Regions from separate parts of the Homo sapiens genome. Here region 2 is linked to region 1. Evidence: fine-mapped expression QTL. Tissue or cell type: thyroid. Region 1 holds a variant in brackets; the other region holds the start of a gene. All regions are shown on one strand. Distances are between the middles of the regions.

Region 1 (10,755 bases):
TGCTATTTTCTTTTCTTTTATTATTGAGGTAAAATTTACATACAGTAAAGTCTACAAATTCTTTTTTTTTTTTTCAGATGGAGTCTCTCTCTGTCACCTAGGCTGAAGTGCAGTGGTGCAATCTTAGCTCACTGCAACCTCCGCCTCCCAGGTTCAAGAAATTCTCCTGCCTCAGCCTCCCGAGTAGCAGGGATTACAGGCATGCGCCACCATGCCTGGCTAATTTCTGTATTTTTAGTAGAGATGGGGTTTCACCGTGTTGGCCAGGCTGGTCTCAAACTCCTGACCTCAAATGATCCACCCACCTCAGCCTCCCAAAGTGCTGGGATTACAGACATGAGCCACTGTGTCCGGCCAAGTCCACCAATCTTTACATGTGCTGTACAGTTGATGTATTTTTTCTATATTTGTACATCAGTGCAAGCACCGCTCTAATCAGGATATGGATGGTTTCCATCACTCCAGAGGGTTCCCCATGCCCCCACCCGCTTCCCCCATCAACCCAGCTTGTGCTCACATGCAGCAGCTGCCATTGAACTTCACATGGGGCGGGTATTATATACCATGTGCTTTACATTGTTCCCTTAGGACTTTCACGTCTTTTTCTGATCAGTTTTAAGCAGCCTCTCAGCCCTTCTTCTGATGGGCTGGGCTCCTCCCTCCTGGCACATCACTGGTGACTGTCTACTGTCATCTCCTGAGGTGGCAGAAGCCTCAGATGTACCTCCCTTGGCAGGGTGTGTCCTGGGATATTCCTGCGGGCACCGAGACCAGGCCTTTGCTCCCAGGGGCGGCTCTGTGGCTTTGCTGGCTCTTGCATTGCAGGGCTTGGAGGAGCTGGGAATGGGCTGGGGATGGGGTGCCCTGGGCAAAGGTTTCTGAGAAGTGGCCTGAAGTCAGGCCAAGCTGGGGGGCTTTAGAGAAGGAGTGGATAAAGCTACAGACCCAAGAGAGGTCTGCACAATGGGGGGTGCTCACAGAACACCCACAATGTTAGAAGTGGCAGTTAAGTGTGGGGTGGTGAATTAGGCATTAGCTTGGCCCTCTACTGAGAATGACGGAGGACAGACCCCACCCCTGCTGACAAGGCTGACCTTAGGTGTGGTATGGTGGGAAGTCGCCCTTCCCTACAAAAATATCCCTTTCGCCTGCCTGCCAACACCATGTGTTCACTCACTTGTTCATGTCAGGGGTATTTCCTGGGACCCCGGGGATGCAGGCAGGCAATGTGCTAACGCCAACTGTGTGAGGATGCCCACAGGCAGGGCCTCTCATCCCGCGGGCCCACTTCCTAGACAGGCTGCTAACGGGTGGCCCACAGGCCAGATTGGGACCTTGGATGTGCTGGCTTTGGCTCCCATAGTTTAAAAACCTGGAAATTGCCTATAAAAACTAGATTCCTGACTTCTCCTGACAAATCAGGAGATCTGGCAACCCCAGCCTGCTACACAGCAGCAGGTAGGAGTGGGCACGGCACGCTTTCTCCAGTTTGCTACAGTACCTACCATCCCTCTGGCCTCATACCTGCTGGCCTAGGTATGTACATTTCTGCTACTACAGAAATGTAGATATCTCTGCTAATTTGAATGGATGGGAAGAGTTGGTGAAGGCCTCACAGGAGAGGCAGTGAGGCTTGGTCACCGGTTGGAGGGTGCCTGTCCAAACCTACTCAGGCTCTTCCTCTTGAGGGTGATGCTCTTCTCGGCAGATGCTCTCTGGAGAGGATGATAGTGTGGGGGAGGGGGAATGGGCAGGAGAGCAAGATGCTGAGATATTATCCCACCAAGGCCCAGGGTAGTGGTTCTCAAAGTATGGACTACCTGGATTAGGATCACCTGGGGGTGTTGGTTCAAAATGCAGCCCCACTGCAGCAGAGCCTGGAGGGAAGGTCCCCAGGTGATGCCCTGCTCACTCAAGTATGAGAAAAGGAGGCCGGGGCTTAGCAGGCCATGGGTCTGACACAAACTGTGTTTTCTAGGGCAAGACTGGGGACCCAACTCCTCCTTCTAGTCCCCTGATGGAGTCTTGTTTTGGACACCCTGCTTCCAGGCACAGCTGGGGCCCCCACCAAGCTGAGGGCATGAGAATCATCTTCTCCAGCCTTCTGGCTCCTGCACCTGGAGGAAAGGTCATGCTTGGCCTTGCCAAGTCTTTTCATTTTCCAGAATCTTTGAACTGCCACCCAGGCAGTGGGCCAGCTGTGAGAAATGGGATGGTGGCTGGCTGGCTGGTAAGGGACACCTTGTCTCCTCTTCCCTTTGATGGGTGTGCTTGCCTCTCAGCCAGGTGGCCTGACAGTTGCTGGGCTCTGGCCAGGGGGCTGGAATCATGGCCCTTTGTAGGTAAGGAGGGGCAGGGGTAGGGAGGCACCCTCGTGGTGGCCAGGGCGTACGTAAGGAGGCGCTTATGCTCAGGTTCTTGAAGTGGCCCAGCAAGAGAGCATTTCCTTAATAATGAGGTTCCTGGGGAGCAAAATATGGGAGGCCCTCATTCTCAGGGTGGTGAAGGGCCCACTCCCCACCCACTCCTGCCAGAACTTGAGAATGCGGGCTCCCTAAATGTCCCACTCTCCCAAACTTGTCTGGTCCTGCATCCTGGTTACTGCACTCAGGGAGCCCGAGGGATGTGCTGGGATTGCAGGTGAAGGAGAGGGTGGGGCAGGCAGAGCATTCAGGACCTCTCACACCAGACCATGGCTTCTCAACCCCAGCTGCACACAGGAAGCCCCCGGGAAGCTTTAACATTTCCTGATGCCAGGACCCCATCCCCAGAGATTTGGATTTAATGAATCTGGGGTGCAGCTGGTGTTGGGATTTTTAAAACTCCCCAGGGGATTCTAATGGGCAGCAAACTTTGAAAACCTCTGATCTGGATGGAGCAGGGAGGGTGTTGTTTATGGGTTTTCCTTCCATCTGTTTTAGTTGGAAGCAACAGACCGACAAGCAGGACACAGACTTCTAAGGGTAATGCTGTTTTTTTTTTTCTTTGAGATGGTGTCTCACTCATTCCGATTGTACAGTGGCATAGTCTTGGCTCACTGCAACCTCCGTCTCCCAGGTTCAAGTGTTTCTCCTGCCTCAGCCTCTCGAGTAGCTGGGATTACAGGTGCTCACCACCACGCCTGGCTAATTTTTGTATTTTTAGTAGAGACGGGTTTTCACCATGTTGGCCAGGCTGGTCTCGAACTCCTGAGCTCAGGTGATCTGCCCGCCTTGACCCCCCAAAATGCTGGGATAACAGGAGTGAGCCACCGTGCCCGGCCTGGGTAACACTTTTGCTGGTAACACCAATAGCTGAATGCTGTTGTCAACATTCAACAAGGTGAATGGACTATGAGGAGGACGGAAAGAAGCCTAAGATTCAAGCTCCCAATCTGTGCCACATGCATCATGTTTGCCACTTAACGGTCAGTCCTGGGAGTTTACAGATGAGGAGCTTGAGTCTTGGCCAGGCTAAGGACTTTGCCTGCGCCTCACAGCTGTGGAATTGTAGAGCCTTAAATGAAATTGATGTGTGACAAGGTGCTGGTAGGAATGAAAGTCCTTCCTGTTGCTTTCAGATTGATTTTCTAAATAAAGTATTTCTGGGGTCAGCTGGTGGAGGAGAGGGCTTGGGAAAGAACTGGGCCCCGACTCCTCTCTGCCTGCAAGATAGAGGGTGGGGAGGAGCTGAAGGCTATTTTAGGCCCCGTCCCCCATCAGATTCTGTCGGAATCTGGCCTCAGCCAGCTGCCTCAAGTGATTTTAAGGAAAAATACCTCTCCCTCTGCTTAAAGACAAATAGATCCCTGAACGTAAAGTGAGTTGACTAGTGTGATAAAAACGGGCCTCCTCCTTGCCTCCAAATTCTCTCACACACACACACACACACACACACACACACACACACACGTATGCACACATACACACACTCAGAGTTACCGCAATTCCACCACCTAGGTGATTAGATTGAGCCAGAAAATACTCATGGGAGGGTAAGTGGGGAGACAATTCCATCTGTTACAGCATATTATAGGTTACAGAGTACTTTTATAGGGGGCTGATCCTACATTCTCAGCAGACCTATGCATCCTGCTAGACAGCAAACACCGTGGGGAATATGCCACAGAGGCTTCTGTAGATGCAAAGAGAGAGCATTTAAGGTGAGGCTTGGAAGATGCTGAAAGTTGCTCTTTAATGGGTAACTTTATGCAAAAGAATTGTCCCACTGGCTTCCAAAGCAGTAACAATGCTGTGAGCAGCTTTTTGCTGTGGTGACAAAAGTTCACTTTCTCCTACTGAGAGTGGTTTCTGCATTCTCAGTTGGTTCATGCAGGAGCAGTGGGCCAGGGAAGAGAGCACCAGGGCTGGTTGGATTCCTGCCTGTCCACTTATGGGCTCCCTCACCTTGGGTGAGGGGATTAGCCTCTGAGTCCTGGTTTCCTCCTATGCATGTTGGGGGCTTCTGCTTCTGGCCAAGACAGGGTAGCAGGGACTGGATTTATACTCCTGCCTGAAACAATTTTTAAAAAACAGACAGAACATATGAAATAATGGTTTTCAAGACACTAGACATTAGGCTACAAGATTCAGGGGTCCCACAGAGCTCTATGGTTGTCTCTGCTTACTACCTGGAGAGTGTTTTCGGCCACAACCCAGAGAGGGGGAACTCGGGCCAGGTGGGGAGAAATGGAAGTAAATT[CTGTAAA/C]TGTAAGGTTCTTATACTCGATGTGAAGTGGCACAACATCACTTGAAGGTAAATTGTGAAAAGGTCAAGATGTGTACTATAAACACTAAAGCAACTGCTAAAATAGCAGAGTTACAGCTGCTAAGCCAATAAAGAAGATAAAATGGAATAATCAAAAATAGTCCAAAAGAAGGCAGAAAAGGGGAAAAAAATAGATGGAACAAATAGAAAACAACCTGGGGCTATGCCAGGTTCCCCTGCCTCTCCTCCTTGGAGTCAGGAGGTCCCAGCCCTGCCTCCAAGCCACACTGAACCTTGGTTTTCTCATCTGAAGAATGGGATAGCAGTTCTGACCTCTCAGGGATATCCGAGGGTTCCTCGGGAGTGTGGTGCCTGGTGCAGGATGGCTGCTTTCCCTCTTCTGTCTGCCTGGCCCAGCTCCTGCCTCTGCGCTCCTCTCCCCTCTCTTACTTGGGGGTACTTTTCTCCCTTGGACTGCCCCTGCCTCTCCAAGGCCTTCTGGGAGCCAAGTGGCTTGGCCCTGCCAGTGGGCAGGTTGAAGATTTTTCCTTCAAGACCCTCGAAGGCCAGGTGGTCAGGGGTTGGGGGGCATGAAAGTTGAGTGAGACTAAGCTTTTTGCTTTTGTTTTTGTTTTTATTATTTTTAATGTTTCATTGTGGTTTTTTTTGTTTGTTTGTTTGTTTTTTTTTTTTTTTTTAGATAAAATTCACATAACATACAAGGAACCGTGTTAAAGTGTACAATTCAGTCTGGGTGTGGTGGTCCACACCTCTAATCCCAGCACTTTGGGAGGCCAAGGTGGGAGGATCACTTGAGTCTAGGAGTTTGAAACTAGCCTGGGCAACGTGGTGAAACCCTGTCTCTACAAAAAGTAGAAGAATTAGCTGGGTGTGGTGGTGTGGGAGCTGGGGGTGGGAGGCTGAGATGGGAGGATGGCTTGAGCCTGGGAGGCAGAGGTTGCAGTGAGCCGAGATCACCCCACTGCACTCTGGTCTGGGCAACAGAGTGAGACCCTGTCTCAATAAATAAATAAATAAATAAATAAAAATTATACAATTCAGTGGCATTTAGTATATTCCCAATGTTGTACAACCACCAGTTTCAAAACCACTAGTTTCAAAATTTTTCGTCACTCCAGAAAAACACCCTGTGCCCATTAAGTAATCACTCCTCATTCTCTCCCTCCCCCCAGCCTCTGGTAACCACTCATCTGCTTTCTCCCTTTATGGATTTACCTATTGTGTTCATTTCATTTCAAAGGAATCATAGACTCTGTGGCCTTTTATGTCTGGCTTCCTTCCCTTGGCGTAATGTTTTAAGTTTCATCCATGTTATAGCAAGTGTCAGCACTTTATTTCTTTTTAATAGCTGAGTAATATTCTATTGCATGTACATAACACGATTTGTTTATCCATTCAGCCGTTGATGGACATTGAGTTGTTTCTACCTTTCGGTTACTGTGGATAGTGCTGTGATGAACATTTGTGAACAAGGGGAGTCCCTGTTTTCAGTCATTTCGAGCATATCCAAATGCGTGGAGTTGGTGGGTCATACGGAAATTCTGTTTACCTTTTGCAGAAACTGCCAAACTGCTCTCCACAGTGGCTGTACCTCCTTTTAGTTTTCATATTATATTATTCTAAGTGCAAAGATAAGACAACGCCATAGAAAATTTGGAAATTATGCCTTGAGCAATTTTTTTAAAAAAGTTTTCATTTTAAAAAATCATAAAGTTTATATAAATCCATGCTTATTGTAACAATTCAAAGACATTTCTAGCAGAAAAAAGTCTATCTGCTCCTCCATCACTTTCCCCCTAGCTGATAAATGTTGACCCTTTAGTAAGTATCTTTCCAGACATTTTCCAGGCATTGATAGAGTTTTGGGATTTTTCTTTTTACATGAACTTGTCATACTATCCATATTATTTGCTTTGAAATCTTTCTATGCATTTCTTGTGAATTTCAAGTTGGAAAGACTGTCCCAGAGCCAGGCGGGTGGTCCCTGGAGGAGAGACCCTCAGATCTGTGACCTGTCCTTGCTCTGTTAAAAAAAGTTTGGAAGTCTGGGCCACAGGTATGGACAAAGTTGTCCTTGAGTGGATGGATAAAGAATGTATTATAATTTTCTTTTTGTTATCTGCATATATAAATTCTTTGTAAAATGAGTATGAATTGCTTTTATAATAAGAAAAAAAAGTGGGGAAGAATTGAGGGCCTGCAGTCTTGGTGCCCAGCTTGTACCTTAATTTAGCACTAACTTCATTCCTTCTCATTGCATAATGAGTTGTTTATGTGTTTGCCTCCCTTGAGGGAGGACAGGCTTATTCATCTCCTTGCCCTCCCGACTCCTTCCCTGCTCAGGTCTGAGCCCCATGCCAGGCACACAGCAGGATTGCTGAACCAGCAAGTAGCCCCTGCAGGGTTGTGGTGGAGGCTGCAGAGGAGAGGGTGGGTCCCAAAGACCCCCATATGCCCTCAGCTCAGGCTCCCAAAGGAGAGTGCATAGCCGGGGGAGTCCAGGCCCCCAGGACCAGGCTCCCAGTGGTCACACTCTCTGCAGGGGCACTGGGCCCAGCCTCTGTGGGAAGCTGGGTGTGAGCGCAGGTGCAGTTATTCATGGCAGCCCTGGCCAGAGTACCCATGGCAGGCGGCATCCAGCTGAGGAGTTAATTAGAGCACTGCCAGGAGCAGGAAAGGGGGGCAGGAGGCTTGGAGGCTTGGGCTCCCTTTCCATAGAGATAGAAATAGCTGGGCTCCTGGCGGAGGCGGAGAGCAGTACACACAGGAATGGAGGTGCGAGCAGCCAGCGCCTGGGGCACAGGGTGGGGGTTGTCTTCTTGGGCTTGTCCCGTCATTCTTGTTTGGGAGGGGGAAGGGGAAGGGGCATGTGGTCTGTGGCCCGGAGGGGGCCTGTCCGAGGCCCTTCTTCTCCTTCCTGGGGCCTCCCCATCTGTCTCCCAAGCCTGGCCTGCCCGGGCTCACGGGGGGCATCACAACAGCCCCAGAGCCCTGGCCTCACCTTCCTGCCTCTAGCTTTCCATGAGAAGCAGGCTATGAAGGGGTGGGGTGGGGTTCCAGAGCTCAGGATCATTCTAGCATTTCTAGGGGGTAGTCCCTGGTGGTGCTGGGCAGCTCCGTGCCTGACTCATCTGAAAACACTTTATAAATAACCTGGCAGAGGGACGTGGGCTGTCCACCCCCGTACCCGCCACACTCTGTGAGCAGGTGGCAGCACCGAGGTCCTGAGGGCTTTTGAGATGTCCAGGGCAGGGTTCTGGTCAGAAGCCAGGCCCAGGGGGATGCCGGGAGGGAGTGTTGTCCACCTCTGGTGAATGGCGCTGCGGGGGTTCTGGGCACCATGGAGTCCTCCTCTCAGCTGTGATGTTGTCAGCGCCACAACCTTCGATGGGAGCATTGGGGATTTCTGGCTGGGCAAACTGAGCCACTATGGACTAAAGTTGCTGGGAAACCTGGGATGAGTCACTTCCCTTCTCTGGGAACCCTCATTGGTAAAATGAAAAGGTTGAACTAGGTGAGTACTAAGGTATATTTTTTATTCTCCTTGGTGGGTACAGGTTGGTGTTCCTAAATTAGATACCACAAATATTTACTGAACCCTCATGTCCCTGCACTGTGCTAGGCAGCTCTATGCAATTATTAAAAAAAAATTTTTTTTATTTAGAGATAGTCTTGCTCTGTTGCCAAGGCTGCAGTGCAGTGGTGCGATCTTGGCTCACTGCAGCCTCAACCTCCCAGGCTCAAGCAATCCTTTCATCCCAGCCCCCTGAGTAGCTGGGACTACAGGCGCACACCATTACAGCCGTCTAATTTTAAAAGTTTTTGTAGAGATGTGGTCTCCCTGTGTTGCCTAGGCTGGTCTCAAACTCCTGGCTTCAAGAAATTCTCCCTCCTCAGCCTCCCAAAGTGCTGGGATTATAAATAGGTGAGAGCCACTGCACCTGGCCTTTTTTCTTTTCTTTTTTTCTTGAGACAGAGTCTTGCTCTGTTGCCCAGGCTGGAGTGCAGTGGCACGATCTCAGCTCACTGCCACCTCTGCCTCCCGGGTTCAAGTGATTCTCCTGCCTCAGCCTCTCAAGTAGCTGGCATTACAGTCGCACGCCACCACGTCTGGCTAATTTTTGTATTTTTTTTTTGTTTTAGTAAAAATAGGGCTTTGCCACGTTGGCCATGCAGGTCTCGAATTCCTGACCTCAAGTGATGTACCCACCTCGGCCTCCCAAAGTGCTGGGATTACAGGCATGAGCCACCATGCCCGGCCTCAAATATTTTTTAATAAGGCTCATTTGCTGCTAGTTAGTGCATTGGGTAGGGGCCCATGCCGGTCAGGCCACATCAGGGTCTCAGGCCAGGGCAACAGCTGTATACGTGTCAGTCGTCTGAAGGATTAGCAAGGGAGTGTGGCCACGGCTCAGGCAAAGGCAGAAAACACCTGACACCGAGAGGGAAGGGCACGGTGGGCTCTGATGCTTGTCTGAATTTCCCTCAGCAGCCCCATTCACCAGATGGGCCCTGGGACTCGCTCAAGGTCCCATAGCTGGAAGTGATGGGGGCCCTGGGAGGACCCAGGTGTTCTGATTTCAAGCCCGGTTTCTTGGGAGGAATGCTCATTGTTTCTATATTCTCTATTTGGAAATATCTCAAGTAGACACGATGGCACCAGGAGCAAGAGGCCACTGGGCAGAGAAGGCAGGGTCCTGCGTGTTCCTGATCAGGCCTGCTCTGGTCTCAGGCTGGGGAGGACACTGTGTCCTGGTGCTCGGCGGTGTCTGGCACAGATGGGCGTGTGTGGGTGGGGCAGGAGGAGGAGCAGTTACCCGCAAATGGAGCCTGCGTGCTGGACACGGAGAGTCTCTCCCTTGTCAGGCCTAAGGGGACACCAGGAGCCCCCCGGGCAGGAACAGTATCTGGGCGGCCAGCGGTTGGACACAGGGCTGCAATAGGGTCTGATTTTGTTCCTGAGGAAGAAGAGACATTTGACTGGTCAGCCACAGAGGGCAGACGAGGATTCTGGACGCAGATTTCAGCGTGGCACAGCCTGTGTACTCACTGCTGGGGCACTGCCACCTGTGAGGTGATGAGCTCCCAGTCCCCCGATGAGTGGTCTTCTGTGAGGGTGTGGAGGAGGGGACTCCATGAGGGAAGGGCTGGATTAGGCTGGTGGTCCCCAACATGGCAGCACATCAGAATCCCTGGAGGAGTTTGCTTATGGTACAGATCCCCGAGTCGCCCCCCGAGCCCCCACTAGATAGGACTCCCCAGGGATGAGCTGCACAACCTCCACGTCAGGCCTTCAGAGGCTGGGGCTCCATTTATCCCAGCCTCCCTTACCCACCCCTGAGATACGCTGTTGAGGTTTCAAGCACAGTGCAGCTGCACATGTAGTAGCAGTCCATAGACAGAGAACAAACGGCAACCTCAGGAGACTGCGGATTCAGAGCTTAGTCAGTGGATTTGGTGGCTGCACACAGCTTGGACAATGGCTTCCCTGCAGGCCACTCAAGAGACTGATGTCAGGTGTCATGCCTTTGGGGATTAAGATGCTGAAAGGGTTTTGATATCTTTCAAGGGAAACAGAGCTACAGGGCCTTCAACAAGCTGCTTTGCTCCTGCGGTCAGTCCAGTTCAACAGTAGTCTCTGGCTGGGTGCGGTGGCTCACGCCTGTAATCCCAACACTTTGGGAGGCCGAGGCTGGAGGATTGCTTGAGGCCAGGAGTTCAAGACCAGCCTGGCCAACATGGCAAAACCCCATCTCTACTAAAAATACAAAAATTAGCAGGTGTGGTGGTGCACACTCGTAATCCCAGCTACATGGGTGGCTGAGGAACGAGAATTGCTTGAACCCAAGAGGCGGAGGTTGCAGTGAGCCGAGATTGTGCCACTGCATTCCAGCCTGCGTGACAGAGCCAGAGTCCATCTGGAGAAAAAAGAAACAAAAAACAAAAAACAAACGTGGCCCCTGATGAGGGGGAGCCTGGTGCAGTAGGAAGAGTGCGGCCAGGGGCAAGTCCAAAGCCTCCTCCTGTCTCGCTGTGTGACTTTGAGCT
Region 2 (10,755 bases), 31 kb after region 1:
TCTTACTTTATGAGTAGAATCTGAAGTCTTTATCAGGGCCTACAAAACCCTGGAAGACCTGATTCCTGCTACCTCTCTGAGCTCAACTCCCAACTCTCTTCCCCTTGTTCACCTCAGGTCTAGCTACACTGGTCTTCCAGCTATTCTTTGTTTTTATTATTATTATTTTTGGGGACGGAGTCTCACACTGTCACCCAGGATGGAGTGCAGTGGTGTAATCTCGGCTCACTGCAACCTCCGCCTACCAGGTTCAAGTGATTTTCCAGCTTCACCCTCCCAAGTAGCTGGGATTACAGGCAGCCACCACCATACCTGGCTAATTTTTGTATTTTTAGTAGAGATGGGCTTTTGCCATGTTGGCCAGTCTGTTCTTGAACTCCTGTCCTCAAGTGATCCACCTGCCTTGGACTCCCAAAGTGCTGGGATATAGGTGTGAGCCACTGCGCCCAGCCTCCTGCTATTCTTTGAACATACCAAGCCCAGTCCTGCGTCAGGGCCCTTGGATTCTGTCCTCTCTGCCTTGTCACTCTTCCTCCAGGTATCTATATGTCTAGTTCTCTCTCTTCCTTCAGGGCTCTACCCAAATTTCACCTTATCAAAAAAAGTATTCCCTGACTATTCTTTCGAAAATAAGCCCTCTCTATCACTATCTCCTTACCATATCTTCTTCCTAGCAGTGATCACACTTTTCTTCCTAGCAGTGATCAAAACTTGACATATTTTACACATATTTGCTTATGTCATGGATTGTTACCCCCATTACTATATAAGTTCAATAAGGACAGAGGCTTTGCATTTTTAGTCACGACTGTATCCCAATTTCCTAGAAGAGTGCCTGATACACAGTAGGTGTTCAACAAATAGATGTTGATGAATGGATTTGTTGAATGGCCTCATCCAGATATCTAGTCATCAGGTGAAGAGAATGGTTTCCAGAAGGTTGTCTAATTGATGTGATAAAAATCAAGTGGGAGGAACTGTGAAATTTACATGGAGATCATCAGATTATGTGTTCTTTTATTACCAGTGACCACTGCAGGATTCATAGATATTCTGTTTGGTCCTTTATGCCAAATCCTATGCCAAACTATAAGGTAGAATGAGACACCCGCCTTTAACTTCTTTAGCATGTCACTTACACTCTGGGACTCAGCGTTTTCATCTGCAAAATAGGCAGCTGGAGATGTGGTCATTGCTCTGCTAGTCTATGGTCTACCAGATGCTGGAGGGAGGCAATACAGTTAGGAGGATCAACCACACAGGCTCTGGAGCTTGACTGCCCATGTCTGAATCCTGTCTCCATTCCCCACAAACCCTATGACCTTGGGCAACTTACTCAGTTCCCTCATTTATAAAGTGGGAATAATAAAAAGATCACAAGAACACAACTCAAAGAGTAATTGTGAGGATTACGTAAGATCATACATGTAAAGTGTGTAGCATATGGGCTGGCACATGGTAAGTGCTCACTAAATGTTAGCTACTAAAAATGAAAAGTTCTGGGAAAATTTTTGAGGGGTCATCGCTATTAATGTGTTTTAGGGGTGACAAACTGTTCTAGAATATTAGATAATATGGGCATTTTAAAAGCATGATAATTGGCTGGGTGCGGTGGCTCATGCCTGTAATCCTGGCATTTTGGGAGACTGAGGTGGGCGGATCACCTGAGCTCAGGAGTTTGAGACCAGCCTGGCCAACATGGTGAAACCCTGTCTCTACTTAAAATACAAAAATTAGCTGGGTATGGTGGTGCGTGCCTGTAATCCCAGCTACTTGGGAGGCTGAAAATCACTTGAACCCAGGAGGCAGAGGTTGTAGTGAGCTGAGATGGTGCCACTGCATTCCAGCCTGGGTGATAGAGCAAGACCCTATCTCAATAAAATAAAATAAAATAAAGCATGAGAATGGTGTTGTGCCTAGTTGGGATAACGCTTTTCTTCTTGGGAGATGCATGGTGAATTGAAGTACTTACAGATAAAATCTCATTGAAGTACTTACAGATAAAACCTCACGATGTCTGTCACCTTATTATTATTATTATTATTATTATTTTTGAGACGGAGTCTCGCTCTGTCACCCAGGCTGGAGTGCAGTGGCGCAATCTCGGCTCACTGCAAGCTCTGCCTCCTGGGTTCATGCCATTCTCCTGCCTCAGCCTCCCCAGTAGCTGGGGAGTAGCTCCCCAGGTGCCCACCACCACGCCCGGCTAATTTTTCTGTATTTTTTAGTGGAGACGGGGTTTCACCGTATTAGCCAGGATGGTCTCAATCTCCTGACCTCATGATCCGCCCACCTCGGCCTCCCAAAGTACTGGGATTACAGGCGTGAGCCACCGCGCCCGGCCACGATATCTGTCACCTTCTGATAATCTAGGCAAATATAGCTCTGTTTTCATATCTATCAATAAAGCAAATGTGGCAAAAAGCAATTGTTGGAGCTAGGTAGATGGCATAGTTTATTGTACTATTCTTTCAACATTTTGGTATGTTTAAAAATGTCAAAATAAAAGGTTGGAGAAAAAACAAAAGGTCCTAGAAACAGTCTAGTGAAATCCAACACTCACATTTTACAGAAAGAGAACCATAAGCTCAGAAAACAAGACAGTTGCTCGAGGTTATACAGCTGGAAAAGCCTGGGCCAGGTCTCTTGGCCGCCAGGTTCTCCCTGTGTGTGGGCTTCAGACTCTCAGGCAGCAGTGAGCTGCAGAGGAGCACACCCCACCACCCCTCAAAGAGACCAAGGGGTATTATGGGTATGTAAAAAGGCACTTGTGTTGGTGTTTCCTTTTTTTTATGTCTATTTTATTTATTTATTTATTTATTTATTTTTTGAGACAGAGTTTCGCTCTTGTCGCCCAGGCTGGAGTGCAATGGTGTGATCTCAGTTCACTGTAACCTTTGCCTCCCGGGTTCAAGCAATTCTCCTGCTTCAGCCTCCTGAGTACCTGGGACTACAGGCGGGTGCCACCATGCCTGGCTAATTTTTTTTTGTATTTTTGGTGGAGATGGGGTTTCAGCATGTTGGCCAGGCTGGTCTTGAACTTCTGCCCTCAGGTGATCCACCCGTCTCGGCCTCCCAAAGTGCTGGGATTACAGGTATGAGCCACTGCTTCCGGCCTTATTTTTATTTTTTTAAGAGACAGGCTCTTGCTCTATTGCCCAGGCTGGAGTACAGTGGCACAATCATGGCTAGCTGCAGCCTTGAACTCTTGGATTCAAGTGATTCTCCTGCCTTAGCCTTCTGAGTAGCTGGGACCACAGGCACACATCACAACGCCCGGCTAATGTTTTCATTTTTTGTGCAGACAGGGTCTTGCCCAGGCTGGTCTTGAACTCCTGGGCTCAAGCAATCCTCCCACCTCAGCCTCCCAAAGTGTTGGGATTACAGGTGTGAGCCACTGCACCTGGTCTCCTTTTTATTAAACAAATAGATCATTTAGTTGGAATTTATGATGTCAAAAGTGCGAAGGTGGCACCAGAGCCAGACCTGCCATCCTTGGAGAGTGAGCATACCGGTTTGGCACCATCTGCTTGTGGTTTTTGAGTGGTGGTGGTAGTGGTGGTGCGTGTATGTAAACTCGGGTTGCAGAGGAGAGAGGGAAGAGTAAAGGGTGGGGACCAGGTCCAGGAAGAGCAGCAAGGAGAGACTGGCTTCAATTCTGGAGCTGCCTGAAAGAAGGGACCCCAGGCTATGGCTGAGAACGAAATGTGGGCACGTATTTAAAGAAAGGAAATGATTCTCTGCGGTCGGCAGGATCTTTGTCTAGCTAGTGGGGTTCCAGGAAGTGCAAAGGAGAGGGGAAAAGAGGGGCCGTCCGTGCAAGCCTGACTGTGTGTATATGGGGGGGGGGCACACAGAGAGGAAAAGGGAGAGAAAGAAAAGAAATTATTCTAAAGAGGAAGCTGGGGGCGGGGCGAGGGAGGGGTAGAGCCGGGGCACTGGGGGTGGCTGGAAAGGTAGAGAGGCCTCACCTGCGGGCCTGCGAGCGGCTCGGGAGCGGTCAGCCTTGCAGGCTGAAGCGTCTTGCCCCGGAAAAATTCCTGCCCCACTGTCCTTCAGGCTGGATGTCCCGGGGGCCACGGAAGCGAGCGCAGAGCTCCGGGGCTCTCACGAGGGGGAGGGCAGGAAGGGGAGGCGGGGCCTCGCGCGGGGCGGTAGCCGAGCCTGTGGCCCGGGCGGGGCTCCTCTCCGGCGGCGCCGGAGTCTGGGGGCCGCGGCTTCCCCCTCCCGGCCAGCGGCGGCTCCTGGCCCCTCCTCCCCCGGCCGCCCCCATCCCCGCCGCCGCCGCCGCCAAAGCTAAACCCGGCCGTTGCCTGCAGGAGCCGCGGCAGCGGGCGATCGGGCCGTGAGGAGCCTCGGGCGCGGCCTCGCCTCCCGGGCCCGGCGCCTGCCTCAGCACAGCGGACAGCGCCGCGCCCCTTGCCTGGACCCAGCCGCCCGCCCGCCCCCGGCCCACCTGAGCCCGGGCCCGCGGCGCCCGCATCAGCACTGCGGACAGCGCCCCGGGCCCCAGCTCGCCGCCACCGCCGCCGCCCACCTGCTCCCGGGGTCAGCACCGCGGAGACCCCCCTCGCCCGGCCCCGCGACAGCCTCCGAGCGCCCCCGGATCATGGCCACCGAGGTAGGGGCGAGCGCCCCACCCGCAGGCAGTGCCCGATTGCCGCGGGACCAAATGCCCTAGGGGTGGGCTGGGCAGGAGTGGGAGGCGGGAGTTGGGGGTGGGATGGGGTGATTCCCCAGGTCAGGTCTGGAGGGAGGAGGTAGGGGCTTAGTGAGGGCTCATCTCCCCCTTGCGTGTCAATCTTCCCCTCGCCCCACCTGAGCCCCCAAGCTGTCCGCGACACTTGTTGGCATTAGCGCCAGGGTTGCTTCAGGGCCCCAGGCTGGGGTTTCCCCTTCCCTGGACTTCACAAGTCCTGAAACCGCTTTCCTAGAGGGTTGGAGACGCGTGTGTGTGCGTGTGTGAGGGGAGGGAAGGCGGCTGTCCGCTGTTGCTATGCAGTCAGCTTCTGAACCCAAAAGCTTGGCTAAGGGATGACAGACTTACCTCTACATCCGCATTTCCTTTGCGGGAGGGAGGGGACAAAGACATCCTCAGGCTGAGAACCCAAATGGTTGGTCTCCACTTTTGCATATCACCCTTCTTGCTTTTTTACCCCATTCGAGTTTTTTTTTTTTTTTTGTCCCAGGGTGTCCAGATTTCCCCTCCATCTGATGGGAGTTTCTGCCTTCTTCAAGGTGCACTGATAGGTGTGTCACCTTCAAGCACTTGAAGGCTGAACCACGGGGCCTGTTAGCTAAGGGCAGAATCTTGGTATAATGCTTGAGGTCGAGGATTCCCCCCTCTACCCCTAGGGATTGCCCTTTCCCCCCTCATTTCAGGAGGGAGATTGGGCTCTTTATGTTCCCACTTTATACATGATAAAGGTGATGTGTGGAAAACGAAAGGACTAATTTGCTACTCCACACAGCATGTCAGCAGCAGAGCGGAAAGTTTTTGCCTTTGAATTTTTGGAGCGAAACTCAGGACATCAGGGTCTCCCCAGTTCTGATGTTGACTTCCTTTGTGGTGTCTCCCCATTTCCAATCCAGCTGGCATACACTGGGGGAGAGCAGAGGCCTGTGAATGATTCAATGCAGTGCTTCTGGGCATCCTGGTGAGCAGTGTGACATTAATACCAAGTGTGGCTGTTGTTATTCCACTCAAGTTTCCACCACAGAACAAGGTGCTGTTGCTTGGCATTGCTTGGCATTCTGACAAGGCACAAGGTTAGCTAGGCGGAGAGTTGCCCCTCAGGACTTGGTGTGAGGGCAAGCCCTGGGCAGACCCTGGGAGCTTGGTTTCTAGAGTAGAGGAATGCAGAGTACTCACAAAGCACCAAAGACATGGAGGACAGCAGGAAGAACAAAGGGAGAAACCAAGGAGTTGGTTACCTTCCAGATAGGGCTGCCAGACTGCAGCAGAGGCTGCTGTGTTGGACAGAAAAGGGGAACTTCAGCTACATGGGCATGGCTGGGCCAGCAGCGTGGGCAGAGAAGGCAGCTGCCTCTGCGATGTGATCTGACAGATTCCAACAGGCCCATCTGTCCCAGGATGTCTGCCATGGCCCACAGATTCCAACCAGCAGGCTTCTATCTCTATGTCAAGACAGCGTTTCCAGGAGGCTGCTATGAGACATGTGTGACTCTCCCCTGGGAGGGGCTCTGCTCATAACGCCTCTGAAAATATTGCGCTTTCCTGTGTACAAAGCACTATCGCATAAGTGATCTCTTTCAAGCCTCAGAGCAGCCCTATGAAGTGGGTAAGGATGGTGTTATTATGCCCAATTAACAGATGAGACAACTAAGGTTCAGAAACTTGCCTGGTCCCTGTGAAGGAGCCAAAGAAGGCATCATTATCCCATTTTACAGATGATGGAACTGAAGTGCTGAGACTTATTCAGGAAAATATGGCTAAAAGGTGGCAGGGATGGGATAAGAACTTGAGTCTTCTGCCTCTTTGGCCAGTGCTTTTTTTTCCTGCATCCAATTAGCCTATTGTGTCACCTGATAGAGAGGAGGGCCCTCCAGGTCTTGATGTGAAGCTTTGGTGGAGAGAGGGATGCAAAGGAAGTCATGAAGGGCTGGAGTGTGGGGACTCAGGCCCCCTGCTTGGCCTGGCTGGGTTGGTTTGAGGGCAGAGGGACAGAGGAAAGTCCCGGAGTGATGGGGAGCTGAGGACAAACATTCCTCACTTCACAATTTGGCCTTGGGTGGACTCTGATGGCAGAACTGAGGCAGGAAGCCTTAGCTCTGCCAGGGCACAGGACCTGCACGTATTCTGGGTTGTGGGGTGAGTCATTCTCCCAAGGCTGTTTTTACTGTTAGAATTGAGTTGAGATTACCAGGATAAACTTGTTGGGAGAGGGAAAACATCGCTTTAAGTTCCCATGATTATTCTGTTAGGATTCTCAATAGGAACTCCTCAGCTCTAGGAGAAGCTGTATTGAGAGAAGGAGAGAGGGAGAGGAAGGGGGTGGGGAGAGGGACAGAGAGGGAGGGGTGAGGGAGAGGGAAGAAATTCATGGGTGGAAACTGGGTCTTTTCTGTTCCCTAATTTCTGTTTAGGAGTTAGCATTAGGGGAGAGGTGTCTGTAAGGAACTCAGAGGAGGGATGGAGCCTCCTGAGTGATACACTGACCTCATTTGGAGAGCTGCAATGAGCCCATTTTCTGAGCAGCAAACCTCTGTGAATGTGTGTCACTGGGAGCAGGGTCTGCCCTGGGAAATAGTCCAGATGGCCAAGGACAACTGGGAAGTGCCTGGCTGGGAGGGGCTTCTCCAAGTGGTGGGGTTTGGTCTCTAAGAGATTTTTAAATGCATCCAAGTAGCGTTATTCAAGCAGGGTGTTTGGAGGTTTGATCTTTGAGGCATGGAATTAATGATGAGTAGACAACTGGGTCAGGCTTGAGCACTGGTACAGGCTGAGAAGAAGGGAGGTCTTGTGGCTGGTGTTTTATCCTTAGGCCTGACCTGGCTGTCTGTGACTCATGATCCTCACTCCTCCTTCACACCCCAGCCAGGAAGCAGAGTGCTGGCATCAGCGGAACCTCCTAATTCTCGATGCCTCACATGCATCCTATGGAATGAGATGGTTTTTAATGAGGATGAAGATGGCGCCAGGGGGGCACTCCTGTTGGACTTGGGCAGACTGGACCAGGAGCTCATTTGCACTCTAGAGCTTGTTCCTCTGCACCCCAGCTAGTTGACTGTCAGGTGAACAGGAGCCAAATGTGTGACCTGTGGTACCCACTCTCCAGGCAGACTCCCCCTCCTTCTCATACTGCAGTTTGAAAATTGGTACCCATGGGTCTCACCACTGATTTTCTTCCTTATGAAATGCTTCTCGGCCCTGTCTTCACTCTGCTGCCAGTGAGCCAGGGGTGGCAATGGGAGAGAGGGGCAGGGTTGAGGAAGGTGAGAAGTGGAGAGAGGCTCAGGTCTCTGGGTCAGTTAAGAACCCCCTGGGAGACACCCAGGGGAAACACAGAAACTGCAGCTTCAGAGAGAGTTGTGCACATATTTTGATATCCTCTGGTAGGATTTCAGAGCATCACGGATCTCTGCTGAAAACCCCACCAGCTTTCTGAAAACTTAGTAGCTGGCCAGTGGCCTGGAGCCTGGCTTAGCTCTTGCCCAAGGGGCCCCAGCCATGGGATTCTTTATTTAGAGGTCTTAAACTAGCAGCTCTAGAAATGAGTCTGGTCCATGGGTGTGCCTTACTTAGTCTGTTGAGTGCTTATACATTTTAAAAATGTATTGGAAATATTCAAAAATCAGAATATTTGATGTTAAAAAGATCTAGATTTCTGGCTTCTTTTGAGACACCAGAAGTGCTGGCAACCTGGGTATACATTCCCACGTGGCAATAGTCATCTGTCTCCTTGAGATGGGGCACCAGTTTTCTAATTAGCCCCAGGCCCCACCTGGCCCACTTATTGCTCAGCCCCTGTAAACATTTGCATTCATAATCCCTGATAAAGCCTCTAGAATGTCAGAGATGAAAGGGGCTTGAGCAATGATGTAGTTCCAGTTTCTTAGTTTCCAGTTGAAGAAATGGAGGTGCAGAGAAGGGAAGACTTTCCCAGGGCCATGTGGCCCAGGGTCAGGTCTCCTGCCCCCAGGTCAGTGGGCCATCTTTCCACTAGGGCTTCCTGGCACTTCACACTCAAGCCACCATGAATGGAGAAAACCAGGAGACCCTGCCTTGCCTTAAATCCGGCTCTTCACCAACTTCAGATGAGTCTGTAATATATGTACTCTATGTAGGTCTGGGAGACTAAGGCTCTGCCATATAAAATGTGTCTGATATCATCCTTTAGCAACTCCTCAGAGTTGCTCCTCCACAAACACTCTCCAGGGAGAGAAGCAGATCTCTGGTCACCCAGAGCCTGGATAGTAGTCTAAGGCTCAGGATATTGTTGGTGCTGAAAAGGGTGTTGACTTATCCTACTCTGGCTACTTGAGAACCTGTGGATCAAAGCCAAGAGGAAATGGGAATTTATTATGTAAGGTAGCACCCCCAAATCTTAATGTATTAATAGCTTAATACAATAGAAGTTTGTATCCTGCTCAGTGAAGTTCCAGGTAAGTGTTCCTGATCAACAGGTATTCCAGGCGGTGATTCAAGGCAGTGATTCAGTGATTCAGGGACCAAGGCTCTTCCCAACTTGTGGTGTCACTATCTTCAACACAGGGCTCCACCAGCCTCCATGAAAGGGGAAAGAGCAGGGAGAAATGGTACATCTTTATGAATCAAGCCTACACATGGCATTCGTCACTTCCTCTCACATTCTACTCAGTCATAGGGACACACCTAACTGCAAGGGAGGCTGGGAATTAATATAGCTGTATGCCTAGGAGGAAGAAGAAATGGCTTGGGTCAGTAGCTAGCCAGTCGCTAGAGACACACGCCTTCAGGACAGCACACAAATATGTGTGTACACATGTGTGCATTCAGGCACAGATTTAACACAATCCCTATCAAATTAGCAACATCGTTTTTCACAGTATTGGAAAAAACAATGCTAAAAAAAGAAAAAACAATGCTAAAGTTCACATGGAACCAAAAGAGAACCTGAATAGCCAAAGCAATCCTATGCAAAGAACAAATCCAGAGGCATCACATTGCCTGACGTCAAATTATACTACAAGGCTATAGTAACCAAAACAGCAGGTTTTGTATGGGTCAGAGGACAGGAAGCTGAGTCCATATCAGAATGGTTTCTTCCCTTTCTTTCCATTCTCACCACTGCTTTTCTCACCACCTCTTTAGTTTTTTCCATGGACTATTAGAAAGAGAATCATCCCTCCAACTGGCCCCTCACCCCAGTCTTGTCCACTTCCCACAAAACTGCTAGAATGAGCCTTCTAGGGGTAGGGGAGTCCATCCTCAAGATTGACTGACTTTCATAAGTTGGTTTTAGAGGGGCAGAGGAAGGCCATAGCCTTGTTCTTTACTCTTGAAAATACAACATTATAAAACCTTAACCAGAGCAGACATGTTAACAATTAACTTATTTATATTACCAAAGCATTCCTTATTTCTCCGAGTTATCATAGGTTCCTAGTAGATATCAAGGGGATTTCCTCAATGAAAACCTTGATTAGAGGAATCAACTCATATAAGCCTACAGGAGGGCTTATACATTATTTAATCCAGTCACAATACTTTGAGATCACATTTCGTACATACAGCAAGGTCCACCTGGATTTAGGAAAGTCACATATAGTGTTTTTGGATTCCCACCTTTTCAGGACCTTGATCTACCAATTATCTGCTCCTTCTACTTTATTGATAACCTTTCCTAGTTATTTATTATTTCCCAAGATTTTTGTTTGTTTTTAAATTTTATTTTATTTTAGATTCAGGGAGTACATGTGCATGTTTGTTACATGGGTATATTGCATATTGGTGGAGATTGGGCTTCTAGTGTACCCATCACCCAAGTAGTGAACATTGTACCCGATGGGTAATTTTTTAACCCTCACCCCCTCCCCTCTTTTGGAATCCCCAGTGTCTATTATTTTCATCTTCATATCCATGTGTACCTCTTGTTTAGCTTAGATTTATAAGTGAGAAAGTGTGTTTTGTGGTATTTGGTTTTCTGTTTCTAAGTTAGTTCACTAAGGATAATGGCCTCCAGCTCCACTCATGTTGCTGCAAAAGATATGACTTTATTATTTTGTATGGCTGTGTAGTATTCCATGGTGTAT

Direction of the effects. Alleles are on the strand shown, and positions count from the first base shown. SD is a standard deviation of normalised expression in the study named.
For the expression in thyroid of the gene that starts at base 4,149 in region 2, CTGTAAA is the low allele of the variant in region 1 and C is the other (large effect, 0.77 SD a copy in GTEx).

What was found. PIP is the estimated chance that this variant, and not a neighbour inherited with it, causes the effect.
Region 2: GOLGA7B starts here. The variant in region 1 is fine-mapped to the expression of GOLGA7B in thyroid (GTEx, PIP above 0.99).

Annotation. Positions count from the first base shown.
Region 1 is chr10:97,814,468-97,825,222 of GRCh38, forward strand. It overlaps LOC107984260 (a long non-coding RNA gene), which reads left to right and starts at 7,430. Exons shown (of 3, transcript XR_001747563.2): 1 at 7,430-8,221. The variant CTGTAAA/C (reference allele first, on the strand shown) is at 4,681.
Region 2 is chr10:97,845,695-97,856,449 of GRCh38, forward strand. It overlaps GOLGA7B (golgin A7 family member B), which reads left to right and starts at 4,149. Exons shown (of 5, transcript NM_001010917.3): 1 at 4,149-4,621. The coding sequence starts at 4,610. GOLGA7B-DT (GOLGA7B divergent transcript) reads right to left here and starts at 4,104. Exons shown (of 3, transcript NR_108035.1): 1 at 3,972-4,104.